Regions from separate parts of the Homo sapiens genome. Here region 1 is linked to region 2. The links come from fine-mapping of genetic effects on gene expression. Tissue or cell type: iPS cells. Region 2 holds a variant in brackets; the other region holds the start of a gene. All regions are shown on one strand. Distances are from middle to middle.

Region 1 (4,108 bases), 78 kb after region 2:
TTTAAAACAAAATATGAATGCGGAGATACTTGGTGGGATTTACTACATAACTGGTGGTAATAAAGTGCTGAAAACAGTATTAATATGTTACCTGTCAAAGATTATTTTACCAAAGGGCCATTGTATTTTAAAAGTTATGTTTACTTTTTATAGAGACCAAGGGGGAAAATCTCTTCTATTTAAACATGACTGAATTTTTTTTTTTAAATACCAATTCCCTTTAAAGAGTTTTTGCATAAGATTTTAAGTAGCATTACAGGCCAGTCACAGTGGCTCACGCCTGTAATCCCAGCACTTTGGGAGGCCAAGGCAGGAAGATCGCTTGCACCCAGTTCCGGACCAGCCTGGGCAACATAGTGATACCCTGTCTCTACAAAAATAAAAAATCAAAAATTAGCCAGGTGTGATGGTACATGCCTGTGGTCCCAGCTACTGGTGAGGTTGAGACAGGAGGATCATATGAGCCCAGGAGGTGGAGGCTACGGTGAGCTGTGATTGCACCACTCTACTCAACCTAGGCAACAGGGTGAGACCCTGTCTCTAAAGAGAAAAAGAAAAAAGAAAAAAAGAAAACTACTACCATTATAGACTCATGAGTCTTCAGTCTAACTGGTGGGCCATGTAAATCTGAATGTGCAAGCACTAAGAGCTAATAATGAAAATAAATCAAGTATTTCTCTGAGTTTTAGAAGTAACATTTTTTTCTGCTGTAGGACAAAACAAAAAAATACAATAGACCACTGACATTATGAAATGAGTTTTTGCATCTCGCTTCAGTGCGTATAATAGCTAGGACATGAATTAAGGCAAAAGCGAGAATGAACCTACGCCTTTTCATCTAGTCCACGGACTAGATGGACTCTTTTTTTTGAGACGGAGTTTTGCTCTTCTTGCCCAGGCTGGAGTGCAATGGCACGATCTCGGCTCACCGCAACCTCTGCCTCCTGGGTTCAAACTATTCTCTTACCTCAGCCTCCCGAGTAGCTGGGATTACAGGCATGCGCCACCACGCCCGGCTAATTTTGTATTTTCAGTAGAGATGGGGTTTCTCCATGTTGGTCAGGCTGGTCTGGAACTCCCGAACTCAAGTGATCCGCCCACCTCGGCCTCCCAAAGTGCTGGGATTACAGACGTGAGCCACCGCACGGCGCTTGGCCTTTTTTCTTTTTAAGACGGGGTCTCAGTCTGTCACCCAGGCTGGAGTGGAGTGATGTGATCTCAGCTCACTGGGCTGGGGCAGAGTGATGTGATCTCAGCTCATTGTAGCCTCAACATCCCGGGCTCAAGCGATCCTCCCGCCTCAGCCTCCTGAGCAGCTTTAACCACAGGCTGAGCCAATGCGCGCGACGGGAGACAATTAACTGGAGTCTGTAACACCTACTTGCGAATGTGTGCATTCCTCGTTAGACAACTACAGGTAAGAACTGAACTTGATATATTTCATGGTGTCACCCGTGGGACTCCAGGCGTCCATTCAGGAGCATCGTCCTTAGGAAGGCCAGCCCGCAGGTCGCAGCTCAGTGCTCGAATGCAGACTGGGAATTGTGGGCCAACTCGCGAGCCCTGGGTCGGTTCTGGCTCAGACCGTCTTCCCCGTACTGCTGTGCCGAGCGGACCGATCCAAGGGACCGCGCAGGCTCCCCCGGCTCTCCCTACGGGGACGTGTGCCTGGGCGTGTGACACGTGGCGGAGGCAGCGCGGTCTCAAGGAACAAGGACACGGGCTACTAGGCTACACGTATATGCACTTGCACACAACTGGAAGATCGACTCCTGCTTCAGACCAACTCCTCGCACTCGGCAAAGAAAGGAGAAGCGCCGACCAGCGCCTCTTCTGCCCCCTGGCGTGGACCCGCGGAACCGTCTACGCTCAGAGGGGCTTTCCCTCGAGCGCGAGGAACTGGAGCCCGGCTGGCCCCCGCCTCCGCCTCCGCCCCCCGGCCCCAGCTGCGCGGCGCCGCCTCACCCGCGATGCCGTAGTGCTGCGCGGTGGCGCAGGCCAGGCGGCCCGGCAGGTACGGGGAGAACTCGGCGGCGTAGCCGTGGCGTCCCGGCGTCCGCAGCATCCGCGCCGCTCCACCGCACACCGCACTCATCCCGCCCGCCGCCCCCGGCCCTCGCTGCCCCGGCCGCGGAAGCCGTTCCGAGTCGGAGGCACACTGGCGCGGTTAGAGAGACCAGGCAGACCGGACGGAAGTGTGGGCCCCGTGCCCTGTGTTTGAGATTCTGATTGGTCCGCACAGGAAAGGGCGTTGACTCCGACGGAGACCATTTTTGTTTTGGGTGAATCCAAACTGAATTGCGCCTGCTGCAAAGATACAGATCTATCAGGGGAGTGATCCAGGGTTAGGTATTATTAATAATTACGACAGCTTTTGTCGTTGCATCTCAGCCTCCTCTGCGGTGCTATCTGGTTTTTATTTCATTGAGCGTTTGGAAGACTGGCATCAGGAACTTTTCCTGATGATTATAAAGTGAGAAAAGTTACAGCCGACTCTGAAACCACGCAGCGCGTCCAAAATTGCGTGCTGCGTTGCCCAAGGAAACTGGAAGCAATGAGAACTTAAGTCCGTGGAGTCACTGCGGTCTTTAGGAATAAGAGCGTGGGCTGGTGGGCTACTTTCACACTGTAACTGGAAAAGATGAAACACCAACTCCAAACCAACTCCCCATGCTTGGCAAGTGAGAAAAAGGAGCTGGCCAGTTCTAATGAAGCTAAGCAAAAAAGCAGCACATCATCATATACAACTTTTTTAAAAAGTATTACTATACATGTATATATTGTATGGTAATAAGTGCTCAGATGCTGGTGCTCATTCATTCATTTATTGCCAGGCATATACTATGTGGAGAATGACCAAATATAATTTATCTGCCAAACCAAGATACTTTTGAGAGTAAAGAGGGTGTAATTATTAAGCCAGGTCAACAGGCACAAACCAAGTCGTATGATCATCTTAACCATATACCAAGAACAGTACTAGGCATTTGGGATTCAAAATAATGGGATATGGTCCATGGCCTCAAGAGATTAGAGAAGAAGACTAAAAGAGAAGTCATGTAATTAGTTAAGTGTAATCAAAATACTGTAGAGGCTATGATAAATTTATATGGGGTATTTTTAAAAGGTGATTGTCCGTGCCAGAGGTATGGAAATTGCAGGAAAGGCTGCAGAAGAGAGATAAGTCTTTATGGTGATTGCACACAGATGAGTAGGTTTTCTTTAGGTAGACAAGAAGATGGAGATCTTTGTAGGAGCAGGAATAACATGAGCAACCCAGGAGATTTAAACCAGCATGATCCATAGGGGGTCGTGGCTGCCAGGACTCAGCCTGGCCAGATGGAAGGGATACGGTGAAAAAAATATTGGGTGGGGAGACTGTAGAGTGTTTTACTGGGGCTAGATCATGAAGAGTCTTATATACCATACTAAGAGAATTGGATTTCTACTGTAAACAGTGAAAAACAGTGGAAGTTTTCTAATGTGAGAAATTAAATGACCAAGGTTTTATTTTAAAAAGTCCTGCAACACTAATATGGAGGATAGAGTTTGGAGATGGGGAGGCCAGTTAAAAGACTTTTGCAGGCCGGGCGCGGTGGTTCACACCTGTAATCCCAGCACACTAGGAGGCCGAGGCAGGCGGATCACTTGAGGATCCAGACCAGTGTGGCCTCTATTATTTTGGATTTTTATCATATGTAGTCACTGGAATGTATGCTGCATGAGGGCAGAAATTTTTGCTTGTTATGTTCGCTGTTGTATCCCAAGGACCTGGTATTTAAGCATTCAGGAAATGTTGAGTGAATGCAGCCTAATACAGTGCCTAAATGATCAGTGTGTTTTTCGTAATACTACAAAAAGTAACCTGGAAACATTCTGGAGTTTATTGAAATGCTAAATAGGCGTTAATAAAATATCAAAGTAAGCAAACATGAAGCAGCTGGGACCTTGGCAAAGAGTTGTATATAAAGAGTTATCCAATCTAAGCTAAAAATAGTGTGGTATCTCTGGGAGGGAGAAAGGCTGGTTCCAGCTGGGGTAAACTATTTACAGTGACCTTGGACATACACACACACACACAAACTGAGCTATTACCTGCTCCTTACCT
Region 2 (4,264 bases):
GATTGTTTACCCAAACTTTGAAAAATACACACACAGACAGAGACTGGATGGGTGGCTACCACTGGGAAGGAGGGGTTCAGATTTGGGAAGAGGCTTCTGGAATGCAAGCGATGTTCTGTATCTCAACGTGGATAGTGGTTATACAGGGGTAGTCACTTCTGGATAACTAATTGAGCTGTACACTTAAAAATATGTGCATTTTAAAATATAAATTTACATTTCAATTAAATCTAAGAAACATAATAATATGGTAAAACAGAGATTTTTAAAAGAAACATAATAATATGGTATAAGAGATTCTTTCTCAAGTGGGGAAACTAGAGGTAATCTTTTTTCTTTCTTCTAAATGTAATTTCCAAAATTTTGTCATGAGGAAAACATTAAAGCTTATTAAACATACAGCAGCGACATCTGAAAGTGGTAGCGTTTACTTTAAAAGAGATTAAAATAATAAATAACTATGCCCCCAAAAGAATGTATAAAGATATGTAAACTTGTATCCAGCTTATAAATACTAAACTAAACATCACTGAGCATTTGGAAGAGCAGAATTGATACTGCAGAACACAAAGTCAGGAATTCTAAACTAATATAGAAATTCCAGTTATATAAATAGGTGTATTATAGGTCTAGAATCACAAGTCTACAAAAAGAAAAAGAGTATCTAATTTAGAAATAAGAAGGATAAGAAAGAAAAGATAAAATGTCAGAACTGTACAAATCATGATCAGAAAAAAAAAATTTTCAAAGAAAACGATGCCTTCAGCCTGGTTAACAAGAGAGGGCATAGAGCATTTCTCAGCAATTATCCTTAAAGAATGACCCCAGACATTTATTTGTCAAGTTTTAAACTTTTAAAGACAAGATCTTACATTCTGTTAAGAAGAAAGGTGGTGTAATATATGAATGCCCTTGACCTCATTTCTCAGATCTCTAAGAAAGGAGAAGCTAAAAAGAAAAAGAATTATACACAGAAGAACTCAGATAAATCTCTTTTAAGACTGAGAATATATAAAAACACAGAGCCTTAAAGTAACATCAGCAAGGTCCTACAGCTGCTAAGATCACAAAAGACAATAGGTATATGAAAGCAGATGGAAAGACACTAAGAGGTGAGAGAAAGATACTTTCTAAGGGAATAAAAAATGATCAAAGAGTAAAATTAAATTAACTTACAATCTGTAAATCTGACACATTATGAGACTAAAGGATAAATATAGTATGTTAAAAATAACTTGGCTGGGCGCAGTGGCTCACGCCTGTAATCTCAGCACTTTGGGAGGCTGAGGTGGGCGGATCACCTGAGGTCGGGAGTTTGCGACCAGCCTGGCCAACATAGAGAAACCCCATCTCTACTAAAAATACAAAATTAGCTGGGCGTGGTGGCACATGCCTGTAATCCCAGCTACTCAGGAGGCTGAGGCAGGAGAATTGCTTGAACCCAGAAGACGGAGGCTGCAGTGAGCCGAGATCACGCCATTGCACTCCAGCCTGGGCAACAAGAGCAACATTCCATCTCAAAACAAACAAACAAAAATAAAACTTAAACCACCTACTATACCAACACAGGTTAGTGTGGCAGATTTTAAGTGACTATGAATTCTTCACAGGTCCTCCCATCAAACGGTACAGTCTATTTCCCACTCTTTGAATCTGGGCTGGCCTTGCAACTTGCTTTGCAACAGAAGGAATGCTGTGTGGCTTCCAAGTCCAATTCTCAAGATGACTTGCAGCTTTTGCTCTTGCCCTCTTGTAAACACACAACTGTTAAGTGCAGAGACCTGGGCATACCTAGAGACACACGGCCTGGAAGACAACCAGCACTATCCACCAGACACATTGAACGAGGCCTAATAGGACCACCCGGCCCTAGTTAAGCCACCAGATGGCTGGAACCACATGGGTGGCCACAGGAAAGACCAAAAGAAGAACTGCTAGGGTGTGTCTGGTCCAAATTGCTGACTCACAGAATTGTGAGCAAATAAAATTGTTGTTTTACGCCACTAAGTCCTGGAAGTTGTTCATTACACAGTAATAGATAACTGACAAAAGTGAGAGGGAAAAACATGGAG[A/T]TACATGTAGAACTTGATTCATATCTCCCCTAGAAAAGAGTTTGATGTGACTTGTAAATATACAAATTATCTCTCTCCTATAGCTGCCCAAGATGCCGAAAGAAGACCAAGGGCAAGACGGGGCCCCAGCCCCTGCTATCTTGAAGCAACAGGCCAAGAAAGTGGTGAATCCCCTGTTGAGTAAAGGCCTAAGAATTCTGGCACTGGACAGGACATCCAGCCCAAAAGGGACCTCACCCACTTTGTGAAATGGCCCCACTATGTCAGGCTGCAGCAGCAAAGAGTTATCCTCTACAAGAGCCTAAAAGTGCCTCCTGTGATGAACCAGTTCACCCAGGCCCTGGGACCACCAAACAGCTACTCAACTACATAAGCTGGCCCATAATACAGACCAGAGACAAAGCAAGAGAAGAGGCAGAGACTTGGCCCAGGCTGAGAAGAAAGCTGTTGGCAAAGGGGATGTCCCCACTAAGAGACCACCTGTCCTTCAAGCTGGGGTTAACACCGTCACCACCTTGGTGGAGAAGAAGAAGGCTCAGCTGGCGGTGACTGCACATGACGTGGATCCCATCAAGCTGGTTGTCTTCCTGCCTGCCCTGTCTCATAAAATGGGGGTCCCTGACTGCGCTGTCAAGGGAAAGGCAAGACTGGTTCACAGGATGACCCACACCACCATCACCTTCACACAGATTAACTCGGAAGACAAAAGGGCTTTGGCTAAGATGGTGGAAGCTATCAGGACCAATTACAATGACAGACACGATGAGATCTGCTGTCACTGGGGGGGCAATGTCCTTGGTCCCAAGTCTGTGGCTCACACTGCCAAGCTGGAAAAGGCAAAGGCTAAAGAACCTGCCACTAAACTGGATTAAATGTACACGGTTGAGTTTTCTGTACATAAAAATAATTAAAATAATACAAATTATCCTTTGAAAAATATATAAATTAATAATATACACAACTCAAATGTTTGTGTTTAAAATACTGGTTGAGATCACCATCTTAATTTGAATAAAATCTATTACTTAGGGATGTATGTCCTCTGATTAAGTCCTCTCATCACAAAGTTGCTTTTAATAAGGTAGGCCTACTATGTGTGGAGGATTTAGAAAACATCTGGTATTCTTCAGACCTGGGCGAGGAAGCGCCATAGCTGAGGAAATGGAGGCGCTGCAGCTGCTGCCACAGGTTCTAGTCTGGGCTCACAGAGGACAGGTAATAGAAATATATAAGGATGAGGATTGAATGAATATTTACTTAGGATCCTTTGTTTGGGGTGCCATATTTCAGTATGTACACTGTAACTTTTTAAGACTAAAATAGAAAACAGGTACAATTATTTTATTAAAATCCATCTATAATAAATGTATCAGAAAAGGAACTAGTTCATTTGAAACACATTATATTTATGCTGAAAAAATGCCATTTCACTCATCACTATTTCAGTTTTTTCTCTTATATCCTATTAAGTCATTTTAAATGATTATTTCTAATGTTAATGGGAACATTCTAATACCAAATGAGAATCGTTTAAACTCAGAATTACATCTTTAATTCCTAAAATGAAAAACTCATAGGCTGAGAGCTCATGCCTGTAATCCCAGCACTTTGGGAGGCCGAGGAGGGTGGATCACTTGAGGTCAGGAGTTCGAGACCAGCCTGGCTAACATGGTGAAACCCCATCTCTACTAAAAATATAAAGATTAGGCCAGGCACGGTGGTTCATGTCTGTAATCCCAGCACTTTGGGAGGCCAAAGCAGGTGGATCACTTGAGGTTAGCAGTTTGAGACCAGCCTAGTCAACATGGCGAAACCCCATCTCTACTAAAAATACAAAAAATAAGCCAGGCATGGTGGCATGTGCCTGTAATCCCAGCTACTCAGGAGGCTGAGGCAGGAGAATCACTTGAATCCGGGAGGCGAAGGTTGCAGTGAGCCAAGATTGCGCCACTGCACTCCAGCCTGGGCAACAGAGCAAAAACTCTGTCAAAAAAAAAAAAAATTAATTGGGTGTGGTGTTGCATGCCTGTAATCCCAGATACTTAGGAGGCTGAGGTGGGAGAATTGTGTGAACCTGGGAGGTGGAGGTTGCAGTGAGCCAAGATTGCACCACTGCACTCCAGCCTGGGTGACAGTGTGAAACTCTGTCTCAAAAAAAAAAAAAAAAAAGAAAAGAAAAAAAAAACACTTAC

What was found. PIP is the estimated chance that this variant, and not a neighbour inherited with it, causes the effect.
Region 1: it holds the start of PEX7, and the variant in region 2 is fine-mapped to the expression of PEX7 in iPS cells (iPSCORE, PIP 0.95).

Annotation. Positions count from the first base shown.
Region 1 is chr6:136,820,653-136,824,760 of GRCh38, reverse strand. PEX7 (peroxisomal biogenesis factor 7) reads right to left here and starts at 2,169. Exons shown (of 10, transcript NM_000288.4): 1 at 1,966-2,169. The coding sequence starts at 2,095. RefSeq lists enhancers at 1,559-1,718, 1,100-1,832, 1,833-2,565, 2,449-2,598 and a silencer at 1,889-2,268.
Region 2 is chr6:136,899,058-136,903,321 of GRCh38, reverse strand. The region is part of intron 9 of PEX7 (peroxisomal biogenesis factor 7); the gene reads right to left. It also overlaps the pseudogene RPL7AP37. Among named protein-coding and RNA genes, the nearest start is that of SLC35D3, 21 kb to the left of the region's middle. The variant A/T (reference allele first, on the strand shown) is at 2,073.